5 separate regions of the Homo sapiens genome follow, and all the other regions are linked to region 2. The links come from fine-mapping of genetic effects on gene expression. A gene starts in region 2. Each other region holds a variant in brackets. All regions are shown on one strand. Distances are between the middles of the regions.

Region 1 (5,191 bases), 190 kb before region 2:
CGGCCGGGGCGTTCCCGCAGGGCCCAGCGAGGGCCGGGGAGCCGGGCGCCCCCGCGCGGCCGGACCGCGTGAGAACCCGTGTTTGGGGGCGGAGCGCAGGGCGGGGTCCCGGGCGGGCGGCACGGTGGGAGGGGCCTCGTGCAGGCGGCTCTGGAGGTCCACCCTGCTGGGCAACCTAGAAAGGGAGGTGCCAGAACCCTTGGGTTCCAGGGGAGAAAGCAGGCCAGAGACCTCCTGGGGCCCTCTCGCTGGGCAATGGAACTCCAAGGGGCTTTGCCTCGCTGCGAAGTGCCTCTTCCTGGGCCTGCGGGAGGTGAGGTGGTCTTGGCCCCTGCCAGGACCCACCCTAGGGAGCGCCCCCCAGTCAGTGAGGTGGGGTGCTGGAGACCTGGCCCGACATCATCCCTCTTCCTCAGCGGGAAGCTCTCTTGAGCTAACTGGGGCTGGTGCTTAGCCTGGAAGCAGATTGCTAGCGTGCTCCTGAGTCTCTGCACAAGGCCAGGGGACAGGTAGGGGGAGGAAGCTCACACGACCTCAGACCCTCAGTCTCCCTTCCTGCCCGTGGAGGGGCCTGGTGGGGCTTCCCCGTGGCCAAACGCCCTCTGCTGCATCCCCCACCCCTGCCGTGTGCCTTGCCCCAGGCCAAGTATGTAATGGGTTTGCTCAATTCCTCCTCCAGAAAGCCCTGGTTGCTGCTGGCTGCTGTTATCCCAGAGCCCCAGGGGCACATCAAGGGAGGTGACTAAGCTGGGCCCTGAACTGGGCCTGTCTCACCTCATGAGCCATCCTCACCTTAACCCCACAGGACAGGACACCTCCTTCCAGGTGTGCATAATCCAGGCCGCGCCAGGAGCGGCACTGGAGTTGGACATGCCTGGGCTGGAGGCCCTGAGGTGCCCCTGTCTGACTGTGTGCTTCTGAGCACTCTCTGGAGCCTCAGTTTCCTTATCTGCTAAATGGGCCATCCCTAACTTCAGGACTGTGGTGATGACACACAGAAGGCTACCCCTGCTGTCCTCTGTAAACGTTTGCTGATGCCCAGTGAACAATGAAATACCTCCCCCCTTGACATTTGCTTACCTTCCCTGGGAAACACATCCTAGTCCAGCCCCCTCTAGAGCTCAGGGCATACCTTGCCTCCTCCAGAAACCCTTCCTCACTCATCTTCCAGGGAAGGTACTGGCAGGAAAAAAAGCCAAACATTTTTTTTAAAGGGTTTGGGAGGATAGGCAAAGATTTTTAAACGAGACACAGAAAGAACGATCATAGAGGAAAAGGTTGAAAATTGGACTATGTTTTTTTTTTTTTTTTTTTTTTTTTTTGAGACGGAGTTTCGCTCTTGTTGCCCAGGCTGGAGTGCAATGTCGCGATCTTGGCTTACCACAACCTCTGCCTCCCAGGTTCAAGCGATTCTCCTGCCTTAGCCTCCCGAGTAGCGGGGATTACAGGCATGGCCACCACGCCCAGCTAATTTTGTATTTTTAGTAGAGACGGGGTTTCTCCATGTTGGTCAAGCTGGTCTCGAACTCCCAACCTCAGGTGATCCACCCACCTCAGCCTCCCAAAGTGTCGGGATTACAGGTGTGAGCCACTGTGCCAGGGTATTTAGTTTTCTTATACCAATTTTGACATTTTATATTTTTCCAGATATATGGTAATTAATACATGGTTACTAATAATATTCCTGTTAACTGTTATATCTGCAGTTATCTTTTGTTTTAATTCTTATTTGCCTCTTCTTTCTCCTTGTCTGAAGTTTGTCTCTTTTAGTCTTTTCAAAGAACCAAATTTTGACTTTGTTCATAATTTCTGTTTGCTTGATTTCATCGATTCTTTTTATCATTATTTCCTATTTCTTTGCACTTACTTGTTGCTCTTTTCCTATCTTCTTCAGTTAAAAGCGTAGCTTGTTTATGTTCAATCTTTCTTGCTTTTGGATAAATTTAAACTGTAAATTTCATTGTCTACCGTTTCAATCGTGTCCCACAATTTTTTTATTTTTATTTTTTAGAGATGGGGTTTCTGTCATCCAGGAGAGTGGAGTGCAGTGGTGCAATCATAGCTCACTGTAACCTAAAACTCCTGGGCTTAAGCAGTCCTCCTGCCTCAGCCTTCCAAGTAGCTGGTACTACAGGAGCACACCACCATGCCTGGCTATTTTTTTTTTTTTTGAATTTTTTTGTAGAGACAGGATCTCACTATGTTGCCCAGGCTGGTCTCAAACTCCTGGCCTCAACTGATCCTCCTGCCTTGGCCTCCTGGAGTACTGGGATTACAGTACATGTGAACCACCATGCTTGGCCTCCCACAAATTTTGATATGTAGTGATTTCATTATTATTTTCCTCTAAGATGTTAATAATTTCCCTTATGGCTTCCTCTTATTTAATTGTAGTGCATTTTCCAATCATGTGTGGTTTTAAAAAGCTATCATTTTGCTTTACATTTCTTATTTTTTCATTGTATGATCAGAGATGGTTTTAGATATGACGTTGGCTCTTTGGAAATTATTGAGGTTTGTTTAGTGGCTTAGTTCTTAGTTGATTCTGAAAGGATATGGGATCTATGCCAGGTTGAAAGTTCTCTGCTTGTTAATCAGGTTATTCAAACATTTTATATCTTTGCTCA[T/C]ATTTTGGCAATTTGACTACAGTTTCTGAGAGAGGTGTGTTAAAATCTTCAAGTGCAATTACTGGCTTATCTGTTTTTGTCTCTCTAGGTCTGTCAGTATTTCAAAACTGACAGGCTCTTATTCCAAACAACTTCTCCCTGCCCAATGTTCCCAGGGTCCTCCCACATCTCTTGGAGGATGCCTTTTGTTTATATTTAACTCATGCTCTGGCTGGTCTATGACTTCTGCTTCTGCTGGTGTGGGTTGCTCAGCTTTTTGTCTTCCCTGGGTGGATGAGCTCTTCTGATGTCTGTTCTTCCACCTGCCCCTGGGAATTCATAGTTCCCTGGGACTCAGCTCCACTGGCTGGTAACATGTAACTGGGGAAGTGGTGAAAGCTCAGAATTGAGTTGTTGTTGTTTTTTTTTTTTTTTTTTTTTTTTTTGAGATGGAGTCTTGCTCTGTTGCCCAGGCTAGAGTACAGTGGTGCAATCTCGGCTCACTGCAACCTCTGCTTCCTGGGTTCAAGCAATTCTCCTGCCTCAGCCTCCCGAGTAGCTGGGATTACAGGCACCTGCCACTGTGCCCGGCTAATTTTTGTATTTTTAGTAGAGATGGGGTTTCACCATCTTGGCCAGGCTGGTCTTGAACTCCTGACCTCGTGATCCACCCGCCTCAGCTTCCCAAAGTGCTGGGATCACAGGCGTGAGCCACCGAGTCCGGCCAGAATTGAGTTCTTACTCTCAGCTGCACATTGAAATCACCTGGGAAGCTTGAACACTACTGACTCCTTGGTCCCTCCTGCAGAGAGAGATTCTTGTTTGATTGGTCTGGGTGTGGGTCTGGGCACAGGAATTCTAACCCACTCTCAGAAGGTTCTAATGTGCAGCTGAAGTTGAGAACCCTGTGCCCGCTCCAGAGAAGGATGAGGAGCTGGGGATGGATGTGTCTTGGGTGTTCCAAACTGTGCCAACCTCTGCCCATGTGCCCTCCCCATCAGGAGTCCAGCCCTCAGGGCCTTCCCAGACCTCTGCCCCCGCACCACCATTCCCAAGACCTGTGTCTCTGCAGCAACATGACCCAAGGTGTGGGGCGAGGGGAGGAGGGGGCTCAGGGCCAGGCAGCTGCCCGCCTGTGCTGCCCTCTGCTGACACCCCTCCCCAACCTGCAAATGGATGAAAATGACCCACCTAGGGCAACGTGGAAGGGATGAATGGGCATAGCCAGAAAACTGACCTCTGCCATCTGTCGTCTAGGCACCCAACCACCTTTCACTCTGCTCAAGACTTTATTGAGGCTTCTTGGCCAGGCACAGTGGCTCATGCTTGTAATCCCAGCACTTTGGGAGGCCAAGGCGGGTGGATCACGTGAGGTCAGGAGTTCGAGAACAGCCTGGCCAACATGGTAAATCTCTACTAAAAATACAAAATTAGCTAGATGAGGTGGCAGGCACCTGAAATCCTAGCTACTCAGGAGGCTGAGGCTGCAGAATTGCTTAAACCCAGGAGGCGGAGGTTGCATGCAGTGAGCCGAGATCACGCCAATGCACTCCAGCCTAGGCAACAAGAGATAAACTCCATCTCAAAAAAAAAAAAAAAAAAAGACTTTATTGAGGCTTCTGATGCCCATGTTCATGAAGCAAGCCATGCTCCTAATTTTTTTTTATGTGCATTATCCATATCTATTTGGAATCAACTTATCTCTGAAGTTCTCCAGTCCCTGAGATCCAAGCCCCTGGCCATTTTAGTGTTGGGTCTTGTGACCCATCTACCTCCTCCCTTTCTCTGACATCCCCCAGAGCTGGGTTCTAGAAAGAGACACAGCAGCCGGTGGCAGTTCACCTTCCTGTCCCACCATCATCACCATGGACTGATGCCAGCTTGCAGCCAGGCCCCGTGTTGGGTCCTGCAGCTTCGGAGATGAACCAGACAAGGCTCAGCTTTCATATCCTTGTCTGATCTCTCTGGGGCCAGCATCGGGGTGTGTCCAGGGAGGCCTGCCGCTGGGCATCACAGGCCCTGTATTGCTGGTGTCTGTCCTTCTGGGGCTCCTCAGCAATTGAGTCTAGTTCATCTGTCTACTTCATCCAGTGTAAGGAATTCATTCAGAGAGCATTTGCTGATGTCCACCATTTTTCCAGGCCTGTGCTGGGCACTCTGGGTATACAATGGTGGGGGAGGGCATAATAAATGAGACATGGGGCTGGACGTGGTGGCTCACGCCTGTAATCCCAGCACTTTGGGAGGCTGAGGCAGGTGGATCACCAGGTCAGGAGTTTGAGGTCAGCCTGGCCAATATGGTGAAACCCCATCTCTACTAAAAATACAAAAATTAGCCAGGTGTGGTGGTGGGTGTCTGTAGTCCCAGCTACTTGGGAGGCTGAGGCAGAAGAAGAATCGCTTGAACCCGGGAGGCGGATGTTGCAGTGAGCCGAGATTGCGCCACTGCACTCTAGCCTAGGCGACAGAGTGAGACTCTACCTCAAAAAAAAAAAAAAAAAAAAAAAAAAAAAAAGAGACATGGACCCCTTCTTCCAGGAGCACATAATCTAATGAGAGGTACAGGTGGCTGCAATGCAGCGACA
Region 2 (5,192 bases):
CTTAAATTTCATGAGGACCGCCACCTCCTGCAGTGCCAAGTGCAGTCACATACATTAGCTCCTTCAGCTCTTCTTGACTGATTAGCTTTATGGGGTAGGCTTTGTTCTTAAGACACTTTTACATTACAGAAATGGGGATTCAGAAAGGTTCTGTGACTCCCCTAGGGTCACCTGGGGTCCAGGAGGTAGCCTGAGAGTCAAACTCAAGCTCCTAAATCCAAGTCCAGTGTTCTTTCTACTATACCATCACTTCCTGGTTGTCCCGTTGAAGACTAAATAATAGGCCAGGCGTGGTGGCTCATGCCTGTAATCCCAGGAATTTGGGAGGCCAAGGTGGGAGGATTACTTAAGCTCTGGTGTTCAAGACCAGCTTGGGCAACATAGCAAGACCCCAACTCTACTAAAAATAATAATAATTTAAAAAAACAGCCGAGCGTGGTGGCAGGCACCTATACTTGGGAGGCTGAGGTGGGAGAATCGCTTGAGTCCAGGAGTTCAAGGCTGCAGTGAGCCATGATGGTACCACTGCACTCCAGCCTGAGTGACAGTGAGACCCTGTCTCAAAAACAAACAAAAACCAAAAAAAAAGCAGACAGAAAGAAACTCTAAAAATAAATAAATAAGCTACTCCTCTCATTCATCCGTTAACAAACCTCTCATAATGACCCCTACCGTTTACTGACTTCTTGCCATGTAGCAGGCACTGAGCTAGACTTTTCTTGCAAAATTTCATTTACATCACGCCATAATCCCATGAGATGAATACTATCATTAGTTTCACTCTACAGATGAGGAAACTGAAACTCAGAAAAGTTCAATAATTTGTCCAAGGGCACAAAGTAAGTAGGAAAGCCAAGACTTAAGCTGAGGGCTAATTCTAAACTCCCTGCACATAACCATGGCACAACATTCCAGTTGGAAGTGGTAAAAGGTCCCTAGCAGGATGGAGACAGGGCAAGAAAAATGCCTTGAACCTAAATTAGGAGTGTGACCTAAAGCCTAGAAGGAAGGAATGAAAAATATGGATTACAGAAGGTAAGTTTAGGTTTAAATGAACCAGTAATCGCCACGTCAACTGCTTCCCATGGGGCTTGGAGCCCGGGTCCCAAGCAGAAGCCTCATCTCTCTGAGGCCCTATTTAAAGATTCTGAGCATGGTACAGTATCTCCAAGGACCCCACATGATTTCTAACAAGCAAGAAAGGTGTCACCATCTACTGTAACTAAACATCCTAGCACATTGAGTTTTTCAGTTAGTCAAGGCTTCACAGAGCTTATTTTTTAACTCTCTAAGCTTTCCTGGTGCCGCTGATAAGATTTCCCAGCCCTGTTAAAACGAGATGAGATCCAGCCAGCTGTCGAGAAATGTACAATGAGATTATACTGAGAAGGAACCACGAGAGACAAAGGCCCCTAAGAGGAGCTGGTCTGCTGTCTGCTTTTGTGGCAGCAATCGGAGTGGGCTCTGGTTCTTGGGTGGGGGCAGGAAGCAGGGAAGGGGCAACCACCATTTGCCTTTTGCCCTCCTGTGGTCTTCCTCAGTGCCTTGTGCAAGAGGTGTTGAGGGGCAGGGAACAGAAGAGTCTCATCTTTCATGGTGAGAAGGGCTGCTGATTTAGAACAGTTGTGTGTTGGTAACAAAGAGGACAAAAGATGCTCTTGGGTCTACCCCGTTCCCTGGTGCCTGCCTCTGAGGATGTGATGTCCCCTGGTGCCATGCCTCAGCTCTTGTCCCAGCCCCTGCTCCTCCCGTCTCGCTGGTGTTGGAGTCACTGTAGGGTGCTCGACGTGCCCACCATGTTCCTGGATGGGTGCTCTGGGTCTCGGGTACCCAGGCTGGGCATGTCACCTTCCAGACAGGTGCCTGAGGGTTTAGGTGTCCTCTCTGCTGTGCCCAGGTCACAGAGGCAGTGATGCTCCTGGGGCAGGTGCACGTTGGTCTGCACCCACGTGACCAGAGAGAGCAGGACCCCAGGCCAGGCCGGTCAAACGATTGACTGTTCCCAGTCTGTGCCCAGGTGGGCCGCCTCCCTCTCACGCGGGCAGAGGTGGCTCTCGGCGCCCCTCACCTGCCCGGGCCTTGGGGGCGCTGCTGGCACTCGGGTCCCCCAGCTTCTCCCGCCTCTCGCCGCCAGGCCGAGCCCGGGCACCGGCAGCCGCGGCGCGCTCGGGGCTCTGCAAAGGCCGCCCGGGCCTGTCCCCGCCGCGGGCCGGGCACGGAGCCCGCAGGCCTCGGCGCGGCCCGGCTCCTCCCGTCCGCCCGCCCCTCGGCCGGGGGCCCGCGCCCGCCCGCCCGCCCTCCCGGCTGCAGGGCCGGCTCCGCCGAGCCTCCGCGGCGCCCGGGCCTCACTTAACTGTTCCCCGCTGGGGCGGCGGCGGCGGTGGCTGCGGCGGCGGCGGGTCCCGGCTCCGTCTCACGCAGAAGCAGCTTCTCATCGCCCGGGCGGCGCGGGAGGGGCCGGGCCCGGGGCCCAGGCGGCAGGAGCCGGCGCCGCAGCTCGAGCGCGAGCCTCACCGAGAGCGGCGGCGGCGGCGGCGGCGGCGGAGGGGCGGGGCGCGGCCTGGCGGCGGCGGCGACAACGGCAGTGGCGGCGGCGGCTCCCTCCGCGGGCCGCGGCGGCGGGCCGGGCTCCGGGCCTCCCGGCGCTGGCGCTGGTTCAGGATCGGGGGAGGCGCCCGGCGCCCGAGGCTGGCTCGGGCGGGAGGAGGGAGAGGGAGCCCTGGCGTCCCGAGCCCGCGCCGCCGCCCCGGCCGGCACCCCGCCTCCCCAGCCTCCCCCTCGACCCAGCCCGTCAGCCGCAGGCAGGGCCCCGGTGCGCCCACCCGGGCCTCCCCGAGCCCGCCGGCGACCCCAGTCCAGCCTCAGGCCCCCGGGAGCCCACGGCCTCTAGAGCCTGGGGCATCGATGGTCCCCGCCCCCAGGCTGGTCTTTTCCAGGGACCCTCAGCCCACTTAGCTCTCGTAGGCCTCGCTGTACGCAAGACCGGTCTTCCGCTCGGCTGCAGATCCCTGGAAGCCCCCAGGCCCTCAGGCTAGAAGTTGGACCCTTCTAAGGACTCTCCGCCCACCCAGCCATTCTAGGCTTCACTGAACCCTAGAATCCTTCAGCTCATCTTCCCCCACCCCCCAGCTCACCTAAGGTGAGCTCAGCCAGTCGTCTCAAACTAACCCCAATTGCCTAGCAATTCTCTTATATTAGTTAGATGATTTATCCCCAGAAGCCTAGAATCAGGTTTATGGGGCCAGCCTCAGGCAAGCATCTAGAAGAAGTTTTTAGCAGGAGTCCTACCCTGCAGTACTTGGGGAAGGCATAAGCCAAGGATAAAATGGAGCTGGATGGTTGGGGGAGGGTCCAGAGCTTGACCCTCAGCTAGAGTGGCTGGTAGGAAAGGCGGACTCTGCGCCTTAACCAACCATGCCCCCCACACCGCCCAGCCAGGCACCCCAGGCAGAGGCCAGCGTGTGCAAGATTTGAAAGGTTTCCTGCCAGGAGGCTGGAGCATTCGTTAGGACTTGAGGACCATGCAGGAGTGATCAGCATTGATTTGCTAATGCATTGAGTCTCATTTTCACACATTCTAGGCTTTTCCATAATAGCTGTTTGATCCTAAAGAGAAGGGTGCCAAGCAGAATGGGCTGTCGGGGGAAACATCCTGTAGGGAAGCCATGCACGTGTGCATTCCCAGTGTCTTCACTACTCAGAAATGCCATGGGTTCAGATGGCTTTACAGCAAGCCTTATCCTCCCATCAGGGCACAGATCATCCCTATGTTACTTAAACTGTTACACAGGAAAAAATAAACAAAAGAAACAAAAATTTTTATTTCATTTCCCAAGTTTAGCATAACCCTGATACCAAAATCCAACAGACAATACCAAAAAGAACTGCAGATGACTAACCTAGAACACGAGTCCCCAGAGAATTTAATATTTATTTTTTGAAAATGGGCTTCTGTGGGCAACTTGAGAAAGTGCTGCATGCCGTTTATAGTGTACCTTTTGGAGAATCACGATAAGTATTCGTATATTAAGGAAGGCCTCTGTGAAGTCCAGGAGTAAAGAAACCTGTTTGGTTTGTTTAACCTGGCATTTCCCAAACTCATCTGAGCCAGGACCACCTTCTAAAGCTCACTGATAAATCCTCAATATGTGAATCTGCACTATATATTTAAGTATATAATAGTCGTAAAACTATTAAATACAATTTTAGCCATTTGAATCCAGTTTACTATTAAAGCAACTGAAAACCCACCATGATCAAGCAAGATTTATTCCAGAGGCGCAAGAAAAATCCAACATTAGGGAATTTGTAAATGCATTGCATTGTTAAAGGAAAACAAATTACAGGATATTATCAATGGGATAGATGCTTTAAAAGTATTTTATAAACTTCAAAACTAATGACCCATAAATTTCTAAAAACTCTTAGTAAACTATTATAGGAAGAAAGTTTAAACTTTTAACATGACAAAGTTTATCAGAAGCCATCAACAAACATATTTAATGGTGAAACACTAAAGGTATTCTCATGTAAGTCAGTCAAAAGGATGCCTGCTATAATGGCTATAGAATAAAGCCAATGCAATAAGATAAGAAAAATAAATAAGAAATATAAATATTAGAAGGGAAGAGATAAAATTGTCATTATTTGCTTATGATTTAAGTGTTTCCCAAAAAGTAAAAATAAAAAAAATCAACTAAAAATCATAGAGACTTTGGTAAGGTGGTCAGTTATAAGATAAACACCAAAATCAATGGTTTTCCTAAATGTTAAGGGAGAAGCCTTCTCCTTCCTTCTTCTTCTTCTTCTTCTTCTTCTTATTATTATTATTATTATTATTATTATTATTCTTTTTTTTCTTCCTTACCCTGTCTTATGGTATTGAAGGGAGAAGCCTTCTTTTCCATATAGAGGGACTTCCATTAGAATAAGACTTCTGGCCTCTCTCCACTCTAAGGGAAGATGAGTGAGTTTGGAAAAAGTGGACAAGAATAGATGCTTCTGAGTTCTCTTTTTGGATTTGGCTGACTGCAGAGAGCAAATATTTCCATGCGCTCTCACTGTGGGTTAAGTGAACCTGTTTCAGGGACAGAGTGATACTATTCTCCTGCACCACCCGCCACTACACAAATAAATCTACTCAATTCAGGGAGAAATATAGCAAGCCCACTTAGCTACAGAGCAAAAGCTAC
Region 3 (5,000 bases), 100 kb before region 2:
TAAGCTGCCTCTAGGCAGGAGTGTCTGGTCACACTACTTCATTCACTCCAGAGTAAACCTCTGAAGAAGTGCTAAGAGCAGGTGAAGGGCTGGGCTCAAGGGGGTTCCCTTTGTTTTCAGCATTTCTCTGGCCAGGTCTACAATTATGCTGTCTCTAAGGAAGGGAATTATCAGGGGGAAATGGGCATATTTCTGCTGAAAAACTAGACAAAGAAGATAAACATACAGGGAGAAAGGTATCAGAAAGTTGGTTTTTCTGTGTTCATGTGTTTAGGAACGTTACAGTCAAGGCAGTGTTTGGACAGAATGTCTGTGAAGTCCAGGGGCAGTAAATGCACATTTGCTGGCCACTGCGAGGCCTGGGGCATCTCAAGCTGCAGAATATACAAGCCTCCTTCCCACATAGCTTTAAGTCCTGGGAGGTGGGCATTACCACCTCCACCTTAAACACCAGACAATGCCTGGTGCACAGGAAGCGTCCCATAAGAATGAGCCGACCTATTGCTATGTTCAAATGATCGATATTGTTACTGCAATTGCTGATATGGAGAGATGTGGAATTTAGATCCAGAAAGGCTAGGATCTCTGCTGGCCTCACTCGGCTAGTCGGTGGGAGAGACAGGGCCTGCACCCAGCTGTTTGGGCTCCCACCCTGCTTCATCCAGCTGCCCTCGGCTGCCTGGACCACAGATTTAACCCTTTTCCAAGTTAAGAAGGGGATGTGGCCCATTAAACCAGTGCCGCCTAAGCTCTGCCATGCTTAAAAACCAAAAAGAGAAGGAAAGCACAGTGGGAAGGTGGCCGCCTGTTTAAGAGCACTGAGGTATCTGTCACCTAGTAATATTTTTATTTTTCATGATGACTTAACTGGAAAAAGTCTTAACTTCTTCCTACCCATGGGGCACAGGAAAAGCAGAAATGAAAGCCTAGAGCAGAAATCAGCCCCCCAGGCACTTTTCCTCCAAAAAACCAAAGGTACATTGAAAGATTTTATAGAAGTTGCAGCCTCACGCTGCCAAGCACTTCTCTCCTTCCTGCCCCCAAGCCATCATTCTGTCACCTTCTTGAGAAAGGGATCGTGGGCTGCTTGCCACGGAAAATAGCCCACTTCTAAGTGGTGATGCGTGACAGAATGTCTCGGCTTCCAGGGGGTACTGAGCTGAGCCATGCCAGAGAGCCTTTTATTGCAAGTTTCTCTGGACTGAGGAAGAAATTTCCTCTGAGCACTCTGAGAAGTAATCTTATATATCAAAATTATATAAGGAAGCACACGGCTAAGAAGATGAAGACCGTGCTGGGCCCAAGCCAGCGTGTCCCATGTGATAATTCTCAACAAGTCTTTGGGCTCTTTCTTGGATCACATCCCTGTAGGGGAGCTGAATAAGGAGAGAAGTGACATTCCTACACTGCTTCCTGGTTTATGAAATGTTCTTACCTACCCTAGATCTTCACAACAATCCAGGAAGGAAACGGGCATTACTGCATTGTTTTAAAGGTATGGATACTAGCATTGCCCAAAGTAGCATTGTGCAGGGTCCTTGTACAGTTCTAGAGGATGCTAGTCACATATTTTGTGCAGTGCACAACCTTGGCAACTGCTCACAGCAGCACTGTATGATGGCCAGTATGTGTCAGAGCCAAGATTCTGACCCTATGCTTCCAACCCCAAATGCCCTATCAGGGCAGCAGGCTTGCCCTCAGGAGCACAGGACAGGGCAGCTCTCGGTGACTGTTGAGTGAATGGAGTGAACAATCTTGCTCTTGTCTTTGCCTTTGTTTACCTACATCCTCCTCAATTAAAAAAAAAAAAAGAGGGGAGCCTCCATTCTCTCTAAATATGGTCTCTGCCCTCTCACTCAAGGTGCTCACAGGTGAAAACTCTCCAACAGAGTAGTGTGGGGTAAACCAGGAGAGAGCATCAGCAGCGGGAGAGGAATCAGAAAAGCCTGATGGAGAGGCAGCTTGGGAGTGGCCTTCAGAGCCACAGCC[A/G]GGGACAGAGAGAAGAGAAGGTGGTGAAATCTGAGCTGCTGGAGTGGCGGGGCAAGCATAGCGCAAGACAAAGGCAAGGAGGACGCAGGGAGCGACCCAGGCTGGTGGGACACGGGTGGGGCTGGTTGTTGACAGCCCCAACACCAGGCAGGTGAGGTCTGAGGTCTGAATGAATGCAGTCAGGCTGTGGAGGGGCACAAAGGTGTGATCTGAGGAGCAAGGGGACCAAGGAGGTCTTTGGAGAGATGAGTCAGCTACCTGGGCAACTGGGCTGAGGCTAGAAAAGCCTGGTCAAGGAAGAGAGTCAAGTAAGGGCTGGGCACCAAAGCCTGATACCTGCCAGACTGCAGCCCAGAAGGCCCGGGCCCACGGCCTTCTGTGGGCCCTGCATTCTAAGTGAGAATGCAGGTGTGCGAAGAGAGGTCCCACGCTTAACACTCAGCTGCAGAGGACCTGCTGGGGAACTGATCCTGACCATGGACTTCATCTGGAGTAAGATGACCCAGAGCCCAGCTCAGGGTTCTCAGGGTCTATCTCTCTGTGAAGTCCAGGAGGAGGCACTCGCACTGCAGAAAACCTCCAGGAGGCAGGAGTTCCCCAAGTGCCCTGTGTGTCTGCCTGCACACGCTGTTCATTAACTTCAGTGACACAGCCACCGTGGTGGATGTAGAAAAGCACATCCAATTAGCCAGGCCTACATGAATATTTGCACTCTTAAATCTTTTGCATTTCGAAAGGGTTAAAGCTTATTATTAGCATATAATTTACAGTCCTTTCTCCCAGGAAAGGAATAATGCACAGTAAATGCCACATTCATTTTAATAATACATGTTACAGTCTGTGCCCAACATCTGCACAAAGGTAAAGGAGACAGATTTTTTTGACATGTCCCACTCTGCCATCTAAACACAGGCTTTTTGTTTCTTAAGTGACGGAAGGTTTAATCAAGAAAGCAGGCAATTCATCAATCGAAACAAGGCAGTGTGCGTGCGCCTGACAGCACACACATGGTTGTGTACGGAGCAAACCTGGCCACCTGTCAGCCGCACCTTTTACATCAGGATATACAAATACACCATGCGATCAATTCCCCATCCGCTCCCATTCATTTCTTCTTTTTCTTATTCTATTTTTCTTTATACTTGATTTTGTTGTCAGTCAGGGCAAGAGGAGATGGATAGACAAGGGTTCTTATAGGGGATGATAAAAATGGTTCTTATAGGTGATGATAAAAATGTATCTGTCTTTAAAATGACTTCTTTCCTCCTTGGTTCAAGCACAATTATTATACATATCTTTTCACTTCATTCAGGAATTTTCCCATATGCTATTATCAGTGGCTGTGCCAAATTGATGTTCCTGTCTCAGATCTGGGGCAACCCTCCCATACGCTCACCCACCACCGCTTGAGCCAGTTGTCGGTGATTACGAAAATCCTCTGTGGAGCGAAGAACCTCAGGGAAGCCAGGGTCAGAAATGCAATGCCACCCCGAGCCACGAGAACATATCCACTGAAGACAAGGGCCACAGGGACCCCTGTGAAAGCAGAGGCTAACACTACTCAGGGGCTTGCACCAGAAGACAGTGGCTCTTTCCCTCCTTGGTGGTTATCAGGAACACACTCACTCAGCCCACACACTCACCCGAGCACAGGGAAAAGGAGAACCACAGGCACATGGCACACCCAGAATGTGGATGCAAATTCTGTGGCATCAAACCATGAACATTACAACATGCCAAGCAGTTGTGTTAGCACACCTGACACAGGAGAGAACAGCGCTTCTCAAGCACCCCATTGTTTGAGTCTTTTACCCTTCATTTTCCCAACCCTGCAGTGCTTCCTGATCATTAAAGTATTAAGTTTATTTTCAATTTCCCGGGTGAGTTTTTTTTTTCCTAATTAAGAGACAGAAATCATGTAATCACTGCAAATGAAAGGAAAATATGTTTGGAATTGTTTGGTATGCTGTAGATGAGTTTTTAAATGATCACATTGTAAGATACACATTTTTTTCATCATAAGATGAAAAGCTGGTGGCAGAAATTTTATCCAATTGGATGAAATATATAAATCATGAATTTCATAATACTGATAATTAAATGTCCATCTTCCAATTTAAATGAGGACTAGATTAAAACTGCATGGAGAAGGCTGATATTCAGAAATCATTAATTATTTTTAATTGCTTTGTGCTTTCCTACTCCAATGTCAGAGCTACATGGCTCACCCACGGTTCTGAGTTACAGATAAAATCCTCCTTCTCTCTGTACAAGGGGCCATGATCCAAACTGATGAGATGATGGACACTGACTTGACCACACCGACATCTTTCCTGGTGTCAAACATCCTGAAAGGGGGGCTGGTTTTTAAAAAGCAAACAGCTGTGGAGGGCAATAAGCTGGCTTTTCCAGCAATCAAAAAGAAAAGCAAAAAAAAAAAAAGAAAAAAAGCTGAAGGCAGAGGAGTGGCCAATACACCCCAGTCTGCCAGGATAGATTCAGGTTACAGCTTCTGTCCTGGGACAATTGTGTGCCCCCTTCACTTTAATAGTCAGCCTAATGCTGATGGATAAATGAAGATGTCAGTGAGCCAACCTGTCTAGGTCCTAAAGAGGAAAGCAGTCCTAGCCCCGCAGCTCACTGCACTGTGTGGCTTTGCAGAGTTTCTGCACTGTGGCTCACCCTGCATTCATAGGGTGTTCGAGATTTTTTGGTCTTATTATATGCCAGTTTTAATAGGTATTTGCTTAATTTTACTATGTCAATTTTTTTTCAAAAGAGATAAATAAGCTTTCTATGGTTAAAAACTGTGCACTTGGAGATAGAAATCAGATTACAACAACAAACACAACAAAAGAATAGGATGGTATCATTTCCCATCCCACAGTCCCGTTTGTTAAGCAAAACCTGCCGTAAGACAAAAAACCCTCCTAGGTTAGAAAAGCCGCACTGTGCTCTCCTTGGTGGCCCCTCTCCTTATAGGAAGCCTCTGGGGCAGCTGTGAGCAGCAG
Region 4 (5,000 bases), 35 kb before region 2:
TCAAGGTGGGTCCAAACCTAAGACACAATTCCTGAATGCAATTCGAGAAGGCTATGAAAGCAATGGGTCTAAGGTAAAGTGGCAACATCTTTGATAAAAGACACCATGTTTGCCTTAGCTAGGGCACTAGCAGGATGTGATTAGTAGTGAAAACTAGTGATCCAGCCAGCATTTCAGCAGCCCCGTGCACACTCCTACCCATGGTGCTGGCCCCACCTCTGCCCTGGAGTGGGGAGTGCAGCCTCCTCTGGCTCCAACCAACTCAGACTGCAAGGCCTGGCTCTGGGCTTCTTGCTGGTTTTAACAAAGGGGCCCTGAAAGAGACCCATCAAGACAAGGAGGGCAGGAAGAGTTGAAGTGATGGGATTTAAGAGAAGACAAGTTGAACTCGCGCCGTTCATGAGTCATGCCCGATGACAGGAGGCAAGAAAGGAAAGGAGATAAACTGGTCCTCGTGCCTAAGTCACTCTTCTTATGTACTCTATTACTCAGCTCTCAAAGCACATTGCCAGCTGTAATTGCATTTCAATTCATGTTTAACACAAACATAACTTAGCTGGATGTTGGCATCCAATATCCCAGACACAAGAAGGCCAAACAGAAAGGAGCCAGCTAATTCAATTCAATAAACATCCTGTGTGTGCTGGTGGAGAATGTGTGCACCAGGCCCTGTGCTGGGTACTGGGGGTACAGCTATGCGAAAGGCATAGCTCTGTGGCCTCCTCCTCATGGGGCTCAGTACACAGAGAAGTAATTAAAGAGTGGTAACTGTAATTAAACTGTAATTAAAGAGTGGTAAGCACTGCAATGGAGGAAAAGGGTGCCATTGAAACACACAGAACCAGAACATAATTCCACAGGGAGAGGAATGGTGGGCATGCACAAAAGCACAGAGGCAAGGATGGGCACAGCACCTCTGAGGAACTGTGAGTGGGGGCAGAATGAGAACATGAAAATTAGGGAAGGAGCAAATCTAAACAACTCTCAGATGCCAGTGAAGTCCATTCATTACATAAACACTTACTGAGTGCTAGGTGCTCAGCGCTTGGTGGTAAGTAAAACAACGAATTTGCCTGTAAGTCTAAAAACAGAGAGCCAGAGGACAATTCTAAGCAGGTGAGTAACCTCATCTTTTGGAAAGTTTCCACTGGCAACAGTTCAGGGAAGACTGGAGAAGGTTAGAATGGAGTTAGGGAAATGCATTAGAAGACAATCCAATAGGCCTTAAGAAAGGAGCGTGGAGAACGGAGTCAACGTGTATTTGCTTAGTCCACAGGTCGATCACTTCTTACATTCTTCTCCAATCACCTGCCACTCCCTACACACACGGTAGTTTGTAATCACATAATTTCCCATCATATACATACCTCATAAATTTGTCATCCTAAACCATAATCTAAAGGGTCATGGAACAGCCAGGAAGCAAGGGAGGGAATTAGAAACAAGAATTCAATGAGGTTGTTGAATGTAAGAGAAATCTATTTTTAAAACTTTAATTTTCTTTTTTTTTTTGAGACGGAGTCTCACTCTGTCACCCAGGCTAGAGTGCAATGGTGTAATCTCGGCTCACTGCAACCTCCACCTCCCAGGTTAAAGCAACTCTCCTGCCTCAGCCTCCTGAGTAGCTGGGATTACAGGCGCCCGCCACTACACCCAGCTAATGTTTGTATTTTTAGTAGAGACGGGGTTTCACCATGTTGACCAGGCTGGTCTCGAACTCCTGACCTCAGGTGATACCCCCGCCTCGGCTTCCCAAAGTGCTGGGATTACAAGTGTGAGCCACCACGCCTGGCCAAAAATTAATTTTCCTTTATGCAAAACATGTAAACCACACCAATAACCATTTTAAAAAATAAAATGAGGTGGGGGAAACAGTACCATTTACATTAGCAAGGTCAATTGTAAAACTGACCTTGGTAAATTAGCTCTGTAAAACAAATGAAGAAGCGTCCAATCTTTTTTCAAAGCTTTAGGATAGT[T/C]TGTACGATGTAAAAATTAACTGTTCCTTGGTAATTTGAGAGAATGTTACTTTAAAGCAATTTGGGCCTAGTGCTTTTGTTGTAAATAATTCTCTAACAACATTTCCAATTTCTTCCTTGGATACAGGCTTTTTAGGATTTGTTCTTAGATAGCAGTAGAAATTATCTAACTCATCAGGATTTTCAATTTCAGTCACACATGGCAGTACATAAGAGCTACACATCATCTTCTTTTATAATTTTGAAATTTCCTATATTCTTACTTTCCTTTTCCCAAATAAATTTTCCTTATCTTTATATTATTTTATTTTACTATTAGATTTGCCAGAAGTTTATCTATTATGCTTTTTACAAAGACTCAATTCTTAATTAACATCTCTCCCTCCTTTTCTCTTACTTTTAATTTCTGATTATATCTTTGTTATTTCCTTCCATGTGTTTTTCTAGCTATTTAAGCTGTGGGACAATATCTAGTGGTTCAATATACATGTCACTGGAGTCCCAGAAAGGGAGAACTGAACAAGAAATACTTTAATAATAAACAGAAATATTACAAATTTGATGAAAACTGTAAACCCACAAATTCAAGAAGATCAATGAGCCTTGAGCAGAATAAACATTAAGAAAACTACACCAAGGTATATCATAATCAAAATGCTTAAAACCAGTGATAAAGAGAAAATCTTAAAGACAGCCTGAAACCCTCTATGTACAGAGAAACAAATGTAAGAATGACAGCAGACTTCTTATAAGAAACAATGCAAGCCATAAGATAATGGAGCAACATCTTTTTTTTTTTTTTTTTTTTTCCAGAGTTTCACTCTGTTGCTCAGGCTGGAGTGCAGTAACGCAATCACAGCTCACTGCAGCCTTGACTTCCCGGGCTCGGGTGATTCTCCCACCTGAACCTCCTGAGCTGCTGGGATTACAGGTGTGCACCATCACACCCAGCTAATTTTTTGTATTTGTAGCAACATCTTTAAAGTACTGAAAGAAAATGCCAACTTAGATTTCTATACCCAAGGAAAACATCCTTCAAATACAAAGACAAAATAAAGACTTTGTTCAGACAAACAAAAGCTGAGAGAATATATCACCAACAAACCAACACTATGAGAAATGTTCAAAAAAGTTCCTCAGGCTGAAGGAAAATTATATCAGATGCAGATCTACACAAATGCAGATCTACACAAAACAATGAAGAGCACTAGAAATAGTACCATAGGGATAACTATAAAAGACTATGTTATTATTTTTAAGTCTTTTATAAGATAATAAAACTTTAAAGCAAAAATGATAACAATGTATTGTGGAGTTTATGACATACGTAGAAAAAAAATGTATGCCAACAATAGCACAAGGGCTAGAAGAGGAACAATAAACATCCTGTTCTTACACTACACATGAAGTTGTGTATTACTTAAAAGTAGACTGTGATAAGCTAAAGATACATGGTATAGACTCAAAAGCAACTACTGAGAAACAACAACAACAAAAAGAAATAGAACTGGTAAGCCAACAGAGGAAATAAAATGAGATAAAAATAATTAATAAAAAATGTTGGAAAAATAGGAAAAGGGGAAAAAACAACAGATGGGAAAAAATTAATTAAACAAAAAGCAAGATTGGTACATTTAAACCCAACCACATCAATAATCATGTTAAATGTAAATGGCTAAACACCACAATTAAATGGAAGAAATTGTCAGACTAGATAATACGGTGTCTACAAGAAACCCACTTCAAATATAAAGACACAGATAGGTTCAAAGCAAAAGGATGGAAAAGAATATTTCATGCCAACACAAATCAAAAGAAAGCTGTAGTGGCTATACTAATATATGACAAAGTAGATTTCAGAGAAAGGAATATTAACAGGGATAAAGAGGGTCACTTAATAATGATGAAGGGGTCAATTAATCACGAGGACATATCATTCCTTAATGTTTATGCAACTAATGGCTGAACACCAAAATACAGGAAACAAAAACTTATAGCACTGAGAAAAAATAGACTCATCCACAATTATAGTCAGAGATTTTAATACCCTTCTCTTAATAATTGATAGAACAAATTGACAGAAAATCAGGAATAATATAGAAAACTTGAACAATACTATCAACCAACTTGACCTAATTGACATCTGTAGGACACTCAACTGCAACAGAAGAAGAATATACATTCTTTTCAAGTGTATGTGGAACATTCACTAGGACGGATCACACTCTAGGCTGAAGTCAATGAATCACAGCTTGCAGGCCAAATCCAGCCTGTAGCCTGTTTGTGTACAGATTATAAATTACAGATAGTTTTATATTTTTTCAAGAGTTGAAAACATAATAATATACAATGGAGATCATATAGCTCACAAAGCTTAAAATATACATTATCTGGCCCTCTACAGAAAAGTTTGCTGACTCATATTGTAAGCCATAAAACTATGTTCTCTGACCACACGGAATATATTCTTAGTAACAGAAACATATCTAGAAGTCCCCAAATACATGGAAACAAAAAACCACACATCTAAATAATTTATGGGTCAAAAAAGATGTCAGAAGAGAAATTAGATAGCATTGTGAATGGAATTAAAATTATATACAACACAACAAAATTTGAGGGATGCAGCTAATTCAGAGTTTGGAGGGAAATTCATAGCATTAAATGCTTATGTTAGAAAAGAAGAAAGGTCTCAAATCAATGACCAAAACTTCCACCTTAAACAATAGAACATTTAACCCAAAGTAAGCAGAAGAAAAAATTTTAAAAAGTGAACACAATAAAGTTAAAAACAAGAATAGAAAAAGTCAATAAAACCAAAAGCTGGTTCTTTGAGAAGATTGATTAAATTGATAAAACTAAGACTATAACCAAAAATAAAATGGAAAGAACTAAAAAAAGAACTACTATTTGATCCAGGATGGCAGCCTGAGCAAGAAAAAAAGAGAGATGACACCAATTACCATTATTGGGAATAAAAGAGAGTACATTCTCCAGATCTTAGAAGCATTAAAAGGATAA
Region 5 (5,000 bases), 120 kb before region 2:
TGATTCCCAATGTTGGAGGCGGGGAGCCTGGTGGGAGGTGACTGGATCAGGGGGCAGATCCCTCATGAATGGTTCAGCACCATCCCCTTGGTAATAAGTGAGTTCTTGCCCCATTAATTCACCGAGATCTGGTTGTTTGAAAGGGCCTGGGACCTCCCCCTTCTCTTTCTCTTGCTCCCGCTCTTGCCATGTGATACATCGGCTTCCCCTTTGCCTTCCACCATGATTGGAAGCTTCCTGAGGCCCTCACCAGGAGCAGATTCTGGAGCTTCCTATATAGTCTGCAGAACCGTGAGTCAATTAAACCTCTTTTCTTTATGAATTACCCAGTCTCAGGTATTTCTTTATAGAAACACAAAACGGCCAAACACAAGGCTCTTGAAGTAATTTTTAAAAAGTGAATTAACTGGTCTTTCATGGTGAACCATAAGAATAGAAGAGTCTAGTAGAACAATCAGCTCTTTAATAACAAGGTGATTATTTGGCAAAGAACGGCTCTGAGCAGGGCTGGACTTGCAGCATATGTGTGGTCTCTCAAGGGGCATTCATTCCCTGGGCAGGGAAACTCTGAAAGCAGGGCTTGTGCCCACAGCAGGGGATGAGCTGGTGGAGGGCCTTGAGAGGCATAGCTCAGGGTGTACAGGAGGCTGTGGTGCTCACAGGATCCAGCAGAGGAGGACAGGAGCTGCCAGGGAGGGCTTCTGGGAAGAGCTGGAGACACAGACAGGTCAGAGGCTGGCAGGGATGTGGTGGGGAACAGGAGGGCTCTCTTTGGTGGAAGAGACAACCACAGCAAAGGTGGAAAACCCCTGGAGGAGAAGCCTCACCTGGCCAGAGCAGAGGGAGGAGGAGGGGCAGCACTCAGAGCCAGGGCCACAAGGGACAGGAGCACCATGGAACTTATGGCCAAAAATGCGAGATGCGACAAAAGGGGAATTCTATTTCGATGAAGAGTAAAATACATAATAGACCTTTAACCGTCATAAACCTTCATGGCCTCAATAACACTGCATAGGAACATACAAAATAAAACCAATGATCAAAATGATACTGACATGAGAAGAACTGTGCAAAACAAAAGCTACCATTGTTTGGTCAAATTGAATGAATGAATGTATATATCTATATGGGGGTATACATACCCATCCATCCTACTTGATCAAAAAACGTTGATGGTGGGAGTGTATCTCAAACACTGTGACAGAGAGAAGATGTGTTTTCAAGTATCAACGGAGCATTTAGTAAAACTGATATATCTATTAGACTGCAAAGACTAAATACACTTGAAAAAACAAAAAATTATAGAGGTCATATTCTCGGATAATTACATAATAAAAGTAGAAATTAAGGTTTCAAAAATTACTTAGAAATGTCTTTTCTAACACTTGAGTCAAAGGGATAATCAAAACTGAAATTATGTATTTATAAATAAATATTATATATGAAAGCTACAGAATGCCACCAAAGCAATATACAAGAATATTTATATAACCCTAAACACTTTTATTAAAAATCAAAAAAGGACAGAAAACAAATGAGGGAACCACTCAAGGGAAGCTATTAAAAAAGCTAAAATAAATAGAAAGTTAAAAAAAAAAAAAAAGGTGGCTGGGGGCAGTGTGGTTCATGCCTGTAATCCTAGCCCTTTGGGAGGCCGAGGCAGGTGGGTCACCTGAGGTCAGGAGTTGGAGACCAGCCTGGCCAACATGGTGAAACCCCATCTCTACTAAAAATACAAAAATTAGCCAGGCATAGTGGTGCGCACCTGTAGTCCTAGCTACTCAGGAGGTTGAGGCAGGAGAATCACTTGAACCTGGGAGGCGGCGGTTGCAGTGAGCCAAGATGGCACCATTGCACTCCAGCCTGGACAACAGAGTGAGACATTGTCTCAAAGGAAAAAAAAAAAAAAAAAAAGAAAGTTAAAAAAAAGAACTAATACAGATAAAAATTTATTAAATAGTATAAAGCAAAAGTCTAATGGCTTTATAAATTTAAAAAGCAGTTATTTGGAAAGACAAATAAAGCAAATAAATCAACCAAGAAAAAGAGAGAGAAAAATAACATCAGGATATATATGACTATAGGTATATTAATTTTAAGATAAATACAAACTCTTAAGTAAAATTTTGTACCAATAAACTTTAAAATTTAGATGAAATTTAGGTGAAATTGCTATATTTTCTTTAAAAAAATACACATGATAAAACTGGCTCAAGAAAAAGTAGAAAGCCTGAAAAAAATCACTAATGCTGAAAGAAACTGAAATAGTTGTCCATCTCCTCAAAATGCCCCTAGCTTCCAGGTCCACATAGTTCAGACAGGATTTTTTTTTTTTTTTTTT[G/TG]GTGTTCTTTTTTCCCCAAAATGAACAGCCATTTAAATATTTTAGAAATATTTTTATATTTGAAAAAAACTTAGATCACACAAAAATTACATTTTGATAAGCAAAAAGCCTAATCTTACTTATATAAATGCCCAAATCCTAACTTAAATAGCAGTGGCTCAAATCTAGTACTATATTTAAAGAAGAATGCACCATAATAAAGATTGATTTCAGAAATATAACAATAACTTTCTAAATGCTAAATCATCAAAACAAAATAATCTGTATCTGTCAATAAGTGAGAAAAAATATTATACTACATTAAAATATTCCAAATTTTTTTATATGAAACTCAAATTAGTGCCTGAATTTATTAAAAAAAAAATCTTTGGAAAATAGGAATAGAGAATGGGTCCTTTAATACAATCAAGCCCTCTCTCCTCCAAATTCCCCCAAATCTATATCAGACTTAACCATGGGACACTAGAAGCATTCCCATTAAAGTCAGGAACCAGGTAAGAATGAAAACTACTGCCACTGCTTTCAATGTTTTAGCCAAAAATACAAAGCAAGAAAAACCAATGGTGTATAAATGTTATCAAAGAGACAAAATGATCTGTATTTGCAGATGATGTTGTCTTCCAAGAAAATCCCAGTAAATAAACTGGAGGCTATTGGAAATAACAAGCATACAGAGAGGTGGCCAGTTACCAAATGAAGATTAAAAAAAACAACAGGGCCAGGTGGAGTGGCAGAAGCCTGTAATCCCAGCACTTTGAGAGGCTGAGGTGGGAGGACTGTTTGAGGCCAGGAGTTTGAGACCACCCTGGCCAACACAGTGAGAACCCCCATCTCTAAAAAAGAAAAAAAAAGACCCAACAATATTAAATTAAATATTTAATCACCAATGAAAACATAATGGGCAATGCAGGCTGGGTGCGGTGGCTCACGCCTGTAATCCCAGCACGTTGGGAGGCCGAGGGGGAGGATCACTTGAGGCTAGGAGTTCAAGACCAGCCTGGCCAACATGGTGAAACCCTGTCTCTACTAAAAATACAAAAATTAGCCAGGTGTGGCGGTGGGTGCCTGTAGTTCCAGCTACTTTGGAGGCTGAGGCAGAATTGCTTGAACCCGGGAGGCGGAGGTTGCAGTGAGCCGAGATCGCACCACTGTACTCCAGCCTGGGTGACAGAGTGAGTCCCTGTCTCAAAAAGAAACAAAACAAAAACCAAAACCAACATAATGGGTAATGCAACAAAATTTAAAACTTAGGAATTATATAAACAGAAAGCAAAGAAAACTATAATATGTTACTGAATAATATACAAAGACATTTGAATAGAGAGTTATATCTCTGGAAGGAAAGATTGGATATTTTTCTAAATGACCACTCTCCCCAAATTGACTTATAACTTCAATGTTTTTTTCAATCAAAATCCTCAAAGTATTTTCCTTGGAACTTAAAGTGATTCTAAATTTCTACTGGGTAAAAAAGTTATTATTACCTGGAACATTCTGAAAAATAACTACAAAGAATAGTAAGATAAGAAATTAAAATACATACATTTATAATTATTAAAAGCGTGACCCTCCCATTGGAATATGCATTCAACTCAATGGAACACAACACAGGCCACAAAATACATCACAGTAAGAGGTTATTATAGGATTGTTTTCCAAATGAGTTGGTTAAAAGAAGATTATTTAACAAGTGATGCTGGGACAATAATAAATAATTTGGAAAAACATAGATTCTTATCTTGTCACACATCAAAACAAATCACAGCAGAACTTTAGATTTAAATGTTAAAAAAAATGAAGGTACTAGAATATACCAGAAAACCGAGAAGGCTTTTCTAAAACGTGATGGCAAAGACACAAAACATAAAGGAAACATGAAATGAAAGTACAAAGCAGAAACTGGAAACAAGCGGTAGTAATGTGAGAGCAAAAGAAGGCCTTGTTGCAAGAGGAGCTCCTGCAACTCCACAAACAAAATTAAGACTGCAATGGAAGAGATGCTGCGGACAGACAGGCAAAGGTCTCGAGTAACACAAGTGGCTCAACACAGGCAACCTTAGCAGTAATCAAAGAAATGTAAATTAACAATAAAATACCCCTTCACCTTCCAATTGATAAAAATTAAAAAAAAAAAATTACCAGTTAGCAAGTCTTGTGTGGAAAACCAAACCAAACAAACCTCTTTCATACATGCAGAAGTGTAAACAAATTCAACCATTACGGGGGACAATTTGTCATTATATGTCAAAATAATTAAAAATGTGTTTATATATTTATTTAAAGGAACATTCACCGAAGTATAACTTTTAGAAATGAAGATAATGTAAAAACTCAGCCACTGAGGACTGGCTAGGTAAAGTACATTGTATCCATAAGAGGGAGGATGATACAACCATTAATCCCAGCCTGACGACCACCTGACCTAATGACAAGGAACGAGGTACATGAACAGGTCTCAAAGCAGAATAGACACCTGGAGTGTTGGAAAGGAACAAATTCCTGATACATGCAATAACATGGAAGACTCTCAAAAATATTATGCTGAGAGACACACAAAGCTACATATTGTATGAGTCCATGTATATGATAGCACTGGGCAGGCAAGTGACTGCCAGGGACTGGCGATGGGGAGGGAAGGGCCGGAAATGGAGGCAAGTGA

Which allele goes with the higher level. Alleles are on the strand shown, and positions count from the first base shown. SD is a standard deviation of normalised expression in the study named. Not every link is listed here.
For the expression in CD4 T cells of the gene that starts at base 2,536 in region 2, G is the low allele of the variant in region 5 and TG is the other (moderate effect, 0.56 SD a copy in CEDAR).

Evidence for each region. PIP is the estimated chance that this variant, and not a neighbour inherited with it, causes the effect. A credible set is the group of variants that fine-mapping cannot tell apart.
Region 1: its variant is the best candidate, but not a certain one, in a credible set for the expression of MVB12B in whole blood (INTERVAL, PIP 0.63).
Region 3: its variant is the best candidate, but not a certain one, in a credible set for the expression of MVB12B in whole blood (GTEx, PIP 0.86).
Region 4: its variant is the best candidate, but not a certain one, in a credible set for the expression of MVB12B in whole blood (TOPMed, PIP 0.86).
Region 5: its variant is the best candidate, but not a certain one, in a credible set for the expression of MVB12B in CD4 T cells (CEDAR, PIP 0.56).

The regions. Positions count from the first base shown.
Region 1 is chr9:126,509,249-126,514,439 of GRCh38, reverse strand. No RefSeq gene overlaps it. Among named protein-coding and RNA genes, the nearest start is that of NRON, 100 kb to the right of the region's middle. RefSeq lists a silencer at 15-74. The variant T/C (reference allele first, on the strand shown) is at 2,628.
Region 2 is chr9:126,324,173-126,329,364 of GRCh38, reverse strand. MVB12B (multivesicular body subunit 12B) reads right to left here and starts at 2,536. Exons shown (of 10, transcript NM_033446.3): 1 at 2,355-2,536. The coding sequence starts at 2,435. RefSeq lists an enhancer at 1,319-1,970 and a silencer at 2,412-2,551.
Region 3 is chr9:126,427,388-126,432,387 of GRCh38, reverse strand. The region is part of intron 7 of MVB12B (multivesicular body subunit 12B); the gene reads right to left. Among named protein-coding and RNA genes, the nearest start is that of NRON, 19 kb to the right of the region's middle. The variant A/G (reference allele first, on the strand shown) is at 1,990.
Region 4 is chr9:126,359,699-126,364,698 of GRCh38, reverse strand. All of the region lies in intron 2 of MVB12B (multivesicular body subunit 12B), which reads right to left. Among named protein-coding and RNA genes, the nearest start is that of MVB12B, 35 kb to the right of the region's middle. The variant T/C (reference allele first, on the strand shown) is at 1,980.
Region 5 is chr9:126,443,853-126,448,852 of GRCh38, reverse strand. The region is part of intron 7 of MVB12B (multivesicular body subunit 12B); the gene reads right to left. Among named protein-coding and RNA genes, the nearest start is that of NRON, 36 kb to the right of the region's middle. The variant G/TG (reference allele first, on the strand shown) is at 2,342.